Linked DNA regions of Homo sapiens: region 2 is linked to region 1. Evidence: fine-mapped expression QTL. Tissue or cell type: whole blood. Region 1 holds a variant in brackets; the other region holds the start of a gene. All regions are shown on one strand. Distances are from middle to middle. Region 1 overlaps TLR5 (toll like receptor 5). Region 2 holds the start of TLR5 (toll like receptor 5).

What was found.
Region 2: TLR5 starts here. The variant in region 1 is fine-mapped to the expression of TLR5 in whole blood (INTERVAL, PIP 0.97).

Annotation. Positions count from the first base shown.
Region 1 is chr1:223,110,915-223,115,302 of GRCh38, forward strand. TLR5 (toll like receptor 5) reads right to left here. Exons shown (of 6, transcript NM_003268.6): 6 at 1-2,121. The coding sequence starts at 2,117. Among named protein-coding and RNA genes, the nearest start is that of TLR5, 30 kb to the right of the region's middle. The variant G/A (reference allele first, on the strand shown) is at 2,387.
Region 2 is chr1:223,140,722-223,145,109 of GRCh38, forward strand. It overlaps TLR5 (toll like receptor 5), which reads right to left and starts at 2,527. Exons shown (of 6, transcript NM_003268.6): 1 at 2,475-2,527; 2 at 927-1,042. It overlaps LOC124904522 (a long non-coding RNA gene), which reads left to right and starts at 2,634. Exons shown (of 2, transcript XR_007066895.1): 1 at 2,634-2,877. RefSeq lists a silencer at 2,316-2,685.

The sequences.
Region 1 (4,388 bases):
CATGTGAAGTCTTTGCTGCTGAAGCACAAATAGGCATCATATTTGTACATATCAGGTTCTGTGCCCTGGGGATGGTCCTTGAACACCAGTCTCTGGGCTGTCTTATAACAGATAAAACAGAAGCCCCGGAACTTTGTGACTGTGAGGATGGTCATGAGGAACAGAGTCAGAGTGACAGTGCATACAATGAAAAGGGAGAACTTTAGGGACTTTAAGACTTCCTCTTCATCACAACCTTCCGTGGAAAGAGAGAAGAGGGAAACCCCAGAGAACGAGTCAGGGTACACACAATATATGTCTGCAGGAGGCCCAGCTATAGTGACATTGGTGTGATTAAGCCAATTGATAAAAGTGCTAAGTTCACATTCACAAATGAACTTGTTATGAGTTATATCCAAGACACTAAGTGATACAAATACATCAGGATTAGGAGCTAGGAGCTGGTTCCTGGATATGTCCAGGATCTCTAAATTAGCAGGTAAATCATTGTGAGAAAGAACTGTCAGCCTGTTGGAGTTGAGGCTTAGTCCCCTTAATGCAGTCAGATGGCTAAATACTCCTGGTGGAAGGGAATTAAGATAGTTATGATTCAAATACAGAACTTGAAGATGAGAAAGTCCCTCAAAAACATCCCAACAGAGCTCAGTTTCCCAGGCAAGTTGCAACATATTTTCTCCAAGGAAAAGCTGTTCTAAGCTGGGATTCTCTGAAGGGGTTTGATCTCCACTACAGGAGGAGAAGCGATTTTGATTTAAAATGAGAATCTGGAGATGAGGTACCCGTAGGAGAAAGTAGAGAATATCTAGATTTTCTAGCCTGTTTTCTGATAAGTGGATGAGGTTCGCTGTAAGGTTGATCTTTGGCAAAGTCACTAGTTTATTGCCACTCAAGAAGATATCGGGTATGCTTGGAATAAAATGAATGGTTGTAAGAGCATTGTCTCGGAGATCCAAGGTCTGTAATTTTTCCAGGAATTTGAATGTTTGGTCTTGAATTATTGCAATGTGATTCTTTTGCAAATCAATGTAGGCTACCTTAGGTAGTCCATAGAAATTCGAACTGTAAAGTTCCCCCAGAAGGTTATATGACAAATTGAGAACTTGGAGGTTGTCAAGTCCGTAAAATGCTTCATCTGCAATCTTATTTATCTTGTTGTAGGCAAGGTTCAGAACCTTCAAATCCTTGAGTGTCTCAAAGACTCGTGAGTTCAGGGAGAAGACAAACCCATGTGAAAGATCCAGGTGTCTCACTGAACTTCTGGCCAGGCCAGCAAATGTGTTCTGGTCAGGATCTTTGATGTTATGGAAGCCAAACCCGGCACCCATGATGTGGTGGGCAAGAATCAAAGAGAAGGCCTGGCTTTTGCTGATGGCATTGCTAAAGTTTCCTGTGATGTCCACTGTCCAGCCATTTCCAGAAACATCTAGTATCTCCAGCACCATGTTTCTGAATGGGTTCATACATTTTCCCCAGTCCACTGAGACTCTGCTATACAAGCTATTAGCTGCGAGGCTAAAAAAGGAGAGCGTTTTCCCTTGTAGGGGCTCGAGCTCATGTTCACATACAAGGAATATTTGGTTGGAGGAAAAATCTATGGACTTTAAGGAATTCAACTTCCCAAATGAAGGATGAAGGTAAAGGCTACGAATCTGATTTTTGGATAGATCCAAGCGAGTTAAAGCCTTTAAATTTCTGAAATAACCATCTTTCAATACAGCATCAGAGAGACCACAGAAATACAGTCTAAGTTCAAACAGATGGAACAGTCCCTGAAAAGCATCTGGATGCAAGAAGTATATCTTACTACTTCCCAGGTCCAAGATTCTAAGGTTGGGCAGGTTTCTGAAGGCCTCCTTGTCAATAGTCAAGGGGGTATACTGGCTCCCGAGCTCCAGCAGCTGCAGCTGTTCCAGAAAGGGGAAGGATGAAGCAGTGACTGTCCTGATATAGTTGAAGCTCAGCAGGAGCCTCTCAGTGGTGTTGAGGACCTGGGGGACCTGGGTGAGGTTGCAGAAACGATAAAAGGCTATTCGGCCATCAAAGGAGCAGGAAGGAATTCCAAACACAGGACCGGCCATGAGCACCACTCCTAGGAGAAGGTCCAGGTGGTCTCCCATGATCCTATGGAGAAGAAGGGAGAATGAAAACACAGGCATTTAAGCTCGAGGTATTGCACTGGGGTCTTCAGATCTTGGGGGTATTCTCTATGATGTGCCTGCTCCCTTTGACCCCTTCATTCCTCTGACTCCACAGACGTGGCTGTTGGCAGATACAGACAAAACTATTCTTACTCTATTTCTGTTTTTTTTGAGACAGGGTCTTGCTCTGTTGCCCAGGCTGGAGTGCAGTGGCATGATCACAGCTCACTGCCACCTCCGCCTCCCGG[G/A]TTCAAGCCATCCTTCCATCTCAGCCTCCTGATTAGCTGGAACTACAGGCACGTGCCACTGTACCCGGCTAATTTTTGTATTTTTAGTAGAAATGGGGTTTCACCATGTTGCCCAGGCTGGTCTCCAACTTGTGGGCTCAAGTGACCTGCCTGCCTCAACCTCCCAAAGTGTTGGGATTACAGATGTGAGTCACCACACCTGGCCTATTCTTGCTCTCTATCAAACACTTACGTTGAATTTTCTGTATACTAGGCACTATTCTAGGTACTTAAAAAACATTTCACTTAATCTTTTCTTTTAAAAAAATTTTATTTATTATTCTAAATTAAAATAAAAATATAGAGATGGGGGTCTCGCTTTGTTGCCCATGCTGGTCTTCAACTCCTGAGCTCAAGCGATCCTCCTACCTTGGCCTCCCAACATGCTGGGATTACAGGCATGAGCCACTGCACCCTGCCTTCACTTAATCCTTATAATAACTCTATGTTTCTTCATTCATTCGTTTGTTTATTCATTCATGATTTGCTGAGGGGAGGTGGAGAAAACAGCAGGAAGAGACACAATGTTGCTTCACTTCAGCCGGGTACCCCGTTCCTAGCCCACAGAAAGCTCGGCTGATGAGTGGAAAATAAATTCACTGTTTTTCTCCCTTAATTTGTCTAGGCTACTGGCCCATCTCCATTTATCCGACCTTACTCCACACACAGTCCATCCCATCATGCAGAAATTGGGCACTTTCTGGCACCCCACAAAGAGCCAGATGTGATCGGTTTAATAAAAGTGTGATAAGTGCCTAGTGCTCGCCTGGCAGCTGTGTGATTGTGTGAGTGTACGACAATAAACAGAGACTGGCCCACTTGCTTAAGTCCTGTCGGGGAGCTAACCATCTGTCTGGGTTGAGTGTTTTTTTCATGGGTGCAGCAGAAATGGTGCTCAATGAACGTGTCTGGCTTATGTTCCAAGTATTGTGCTGGGTGCTATGAAGAGAAAACACACAAGGACCCCACCTGCAGAGAGCTTGGTGTCTATTATTTGCACAGCACCTCCATCTTTGGTGCCTACTATGCATTCCATTTGCTTTAAATGTAATGAAAGGCCTCTGTTGGAAGGTAAAGGAAGAGTTATATAGCTCAGAGGGCAGGAGAATGAGAGGAAAAATAAATGAAAGAAATAGGAAGAAGGCAATGGTTTATAAAGAGCATGAATCCCATGAGACACCATCACTGGCAAAAGTGTCAACACCAGGAGAGATTAAGCCTGGAGCAGTCACGGTGCTGGAGGTGGGCTAGCTCTGACGAGGTTGTGCTTTGTGCTGGGGCTGATGTATGGTGGGGTTTCCACAGAAACTGGGAGGCTGTGGCACACAAGCTACAGCAAATCAGAAGTAGGCATGGATGCCTGGATTGACTCAAAGTTTCAAACTCAGGCATCTAATAATCGTTAGGAAAAACTTGGTGAGAATGTTTATCACCACTCTGAATTTCTCCCCCATCTCAGTAAATGGCTTCACCATATCCATCCAGAGTCTCAGGGTGACAACACAGCAGAGTCTTTTAAACATCATTCTTTTAAACATCCCCCCAATATCCAATCCCTCAGCAAGTCCTGTTGGTGCCACCTCCCAAGCCTATCCACTGCCCTACTGTAAGCCGCCGCCATCTCTTTGCATGGGCCAGACTGGAGACTCCTCACTGGCTCTCTTATTTCTGGTCTTGCTTTCATTTTCCAGCCAGCAGCCAGCATGTTCTTTCAAAAACATAATCTGGTTTATATCATTCCTCTTTGTACAGGGCCCTTCCCTTCCTTCCTGCTGTACTTGGAATAAAATCCTGTGAGTACTTACATGATTCAGCTCTTGGCTGTCTTGTCAACATTATCTTGAATAGTTTTTCTCCTCAATAACTCATTAAAAAAATTTGCTGAGCACCCATTATGTGTCAGGCACTGTTTTATTTATTATTTATTTGAGACAGGGTCTCACACTGTCACCCAGGCTGGAGT
Region 2 (4,388 bases), 30 kb after region 1:
TAGGCCTGGCCAAGCCCTTGATGGTCATTCTTAAGTCAAGCTGAACACCAGCTGGCTCTGTGAAGCTCTCTCTTCCTTTCCCAGTCAGTCTGCACTAGCTGTCTTCTTTGAGCTAGCAGATGCTGCCACATACTTTCGCACTTAATTGCGCTCTAATTGTTTCACAGGTGCTGGTTTTGTCTTCCTACTTAGACCTAGGAGCTTTTGGACAGCAGGGACTATGCCTCAAACTTGGGTTTGTCCCAGAGAGCGGAAGACACTATACGCTGTTGCTCTCACATTAAGGGACCAAGGCTGGGAATCACTTAAGCTTCAGAAATCTGATTGAAGCTTTGGATCTGCCTTCTGCATTCTTTTCCACAATGTTAAGAGTGAAACAAACACATCTGGATGCAGTAACTGGACATTCCAGTGCTGTCTGCTGTTTAAGTCTGTTAGTATACAGAGACAAATAAACAGGAGAGTTTTGCTTTCAACACTCAGCAGAGCCAAACTTCCTGATGCACGGGAATGAACAACGGAGGCACTGTTCTGGAAACACCGTCCTCCAGAGAGGCGCTCCCTCCTCAGAAACAACACCGAAAACCTGGCATGGCTGGTTTTGCATTCAGACAATGGCACCTACATGCTTTTTGCTTTGCTCAGAGCTGTAAATATCCAAAGAGGTGATCCTCTGCCATCATTTTGGAAGGAAGAATCAGTCAGACTGATAATTAGGGTCATACGCACAGGCATGGTCATGCTGATTGTTGAAATTTAGATTATTTTTGGCCCAGCACAGTGGCTCACACCTGTAATGCCAGCACTGTGGGAGGCCAAGACAGGCGGATCACCTGAGGTCAGGAGTTTGAGATCAGCCCGACCAACATGGTGAAACCCCATTTCTACTAAAAATACAAAAATTAGACAGGCGTAGTGGTGGGTACCTGTAATCCCAGCTACTTGGGAGGCTGAGGCAAGAGAATCGCTTGAACCCTGGAGGCAGTGGTTGCAGTCAGCCGAGATTGTGTCACTGCAGTCCAGCCTGGGCGGCAGAGTGAGACTGTCTCAAAAAAAAAATTACATATATATATATATATATATATATATATATATATATATAGAGAGAGAGAGAGAGAGAGAGAGAGAGAGAGAGAAAGAGAGAGAGAGAGATTATTTTTGTACTGCTTAGTAATTAGCTTTAGCACGGTCTCTCCTCTGGGACCTCCCCTGGAATTTCCCCACAATCCAGTAACTGAATAATTAGCATCCAGCCCCACAGAACTTCTCCCAGGGCCCTGCTCCAGGGCTTCCCTTCTGACTGGCTGTGCATGGCACACTGGGAATTGTTTTCTGCCCACAAGAACAAGGGTGAACTGAGTCAAGGAGTCCAAGAGATCTTGGACGCACTTCTCAGAATTCGGAGGGGCTGGGTAAATGCAGGAGAAAATTGATGAAACCACATTGGCCCTGCAAGAGCCTGACTGCTCCTGCACGGTAGCTACCCCTAGCATTAGCGGGGAGTCACCAATGCCTCTTCCAGGCACTGAGCAAGAGGGCGGCATTACAGATGCACTTGCCGTCCAAACAGATCATCTCATTGACTAGGTGACTGCTCAGCAACAGTATCTGAAGGACACTAGGGTTACTCTGCTTGTTTGCAGTTCACGGTGCTGGACGGATGTGTTCCCAACACTAGGTAACAACACCGCTCTCCCTCCTCCGGGAGAAAGCCGCAGCCGTCGATTCCCACCCAACAGGGCCTCAGCGCCTTCCCAGGGCAGCACCCTCACTCCTGCAACCACCAATCACCCAAGCCACAGCATGGTCCCAGACCCACCCTCGCCCCTTAGGAAATGGCTTTCCAATTGTGTTTTCACAGGAGCATGGCCACTGGGCAATGATCTTCACAGGCAGGCTTTTTTTTCCCCCTCTCAACATAAAGGCCAGCAATATTTACCACGGAGTCTTGGCCAGTGTGCACTGCCTGGTGCTGTGGGGTGGGGTGTTTAGGGCCTTTTGTTGAGCAGCTCAGTGACTTTCTGGGATTTCCATGGCCCTGCTGGAGATGGCCCTCTGTCTCCCTTTTCCAAGGAAGAAAGTGACTGGGGACAAGCCACCTGCCTCTTCCACAGGGTGGGGGCGAGAGTGACAGCGAGACAGCACAAGAAGGACCCGCTCTGTTTCAAAGCGAGGATGTGAGTGACTTCGTCTGTGCCGAGGTCTCTTCGTCTCCAACCTGCCGGGCACAGGGCACCCACATGACACGCTCACCCCGTCCCTGGGCCGAGGGACCCCACGTCTCGCGGGTGCCGCGGGGCAGAGAGCGCCGCCTAGTGAGGCGGCGCGAGTTGGACATAGACTGGAAAATAGACCCGGACAGCCCGGGAGGAGGGCGGAGAGGAGTCCGACCTCCGCAGGCAGCCGCGTCCCCGCCCCGCGCTGCCTACGACTTAGGGCCCCCGGCCCATCCCCTGCCGCTGCAGGGCGCTCACCTCTGGGACGCCTCCCCGCGCCGCCTGCGCCACGGTTGGCTCCTCCCGGACGCAAAAGCGGCGCCCTCGCTCGGGCTCCTGAAAACCTCGCGGCCCCGCCCACGGAAGGGCCCGCCCACCTGCCAGGCCACGCCCCCGTCTCGGCCACGCCGCAGCTCAGGGTTTTCTCTGAGGGCTGTGAGAGGCTAGGCCCGGGGAGAGGAGGCAGAGGTTATGCTCCGGTCTCTGCAGACTTCCACAGTGTCTATCGAGATCACACATGCCAGCATTGCCCCCTCCCATCCTCTCCTCATCGTACGGAGGAGGAAACCCAGGCCGAAGACCTGAAGTGTCCAAAAGCACAGCCAGGCCAAAGAGAAGCACCATCCCATGTTCTCCCACTCCCACTCCGGTGCTTCTTCAGGTAGGCTAAACTTCAGGCTAAAATGTGAAGATCACAGTGACACATTCCTGTCAGCAGAATCTGCTGCATATGTTTGGGAGCTGGGGTGTTTGGAAGCTCCGATTTTGTGTGGAGGACCCAAGAGAGAAGACAGACCCTTCCTGTCCTATAAGAACAGTGCTCCTCCTGCCCTAACTTCTCTTTTCCTTTTTCTAACTCCCTCTGCCTATGGGGTTTGCTGAAACTTTCAGGAAAAGGGACGTGTCAAAAGAAAGAAATGGACACCCCAGAGGCCGTGCAACCACAGGGTTAAAAGGAGGTAGCCTTATGAGAAAGCGGTGGAGTGGCTTTCTGGGGTGAAACCCAGTTCAAGGACAGAAATAGCACTGTCTTGAGTTAAGACTGGTGGTGGGGGAAGCCTGGGGGTGGGGCGCAGACTGCAGGCGGAGGAGCTCCCTGCCACCTGCCACTTGGGGTGTAATCACAGAGCAGCTGACACTCCCCACTCACTGCCTGGAGGAGCTTGGCGGTGGGATCGGGCAAGGCGGGAAAGATAGGTGTAAAACAAAGCCTGGCACTTAATTACAGTGCAAAGATCTCATTATAGAGTCTTCTCAGCTCCCCTCCTCGGCTGGCAGCTTGAAGCCTGAGTGACAAATTGCCTAGGTAGGTCTCCAAGGGCTGTATGTAGAGGGATGAAACCACCTCCCTGCCCACCCGAACCCCACTGTGGGGGCTGTGGAGAGGGAGGGGATGTTCACACTCTGGCATATGCAGGGGGCAGTGGGGAAGTCTGTAAGGGCACCTAGAAAGCAGTAAGAGCTGGGAGCCACAGTGGCCCTAGCCTGACATAAATAACACCTTGCTGGGGCAAGCCCAGTGTTCCCTCTTTTGGTAGTGGAACCGAGGGCAAGGTTGGGGACAGCTTGACGTGTGGCACTGTTTACTCTGCATCATAGGTGGATGCTGCAAGACCAGCAGGGGCCTGGCTTATCATGCAACTTTGTGAATATGTGGGAGAGAGGAGCCTTCCAGACGGTGTTATGGCCTCCCAGGAACTCCCAAAGCCCCCTCCCCAGGGTGGCATCTGGTTTTGGACACTGGTTTCTGTCACTGAGCTCCAGGGACTCATGTCACACCTGGAAGAACTTTTAGATTCTGTCTGCCTGGCCATGTCTTCCAACAGCCGAGATCATTGAGGAAGATGACAACTTCTACCTGAACAGCCAGGACAGCTTAGGGTCTTCTCACATGTGGACCTTGAAATGCACTTCTGTTATTTTTCTCCAGTATATTCAGGGGAAGGGGGCTGGTGATCAAAGCTTTTGCTGAGCAGGAACAGAAGGGTTGTCACTTGCTTTTTTCTCCACTGAAACCTAGAGTAGCAAACACATCCTCGGGGTGCTATGTGATGCTCACAGGCAGAGCCCTGCCAGAGGTTCCCGTCATTCCCATATATTAAACCTTCAATGTCTTCCCTATGAACTACAAACAAAGTTTATATTCTAGGTCAAAACCCCATCGTCTAGCCC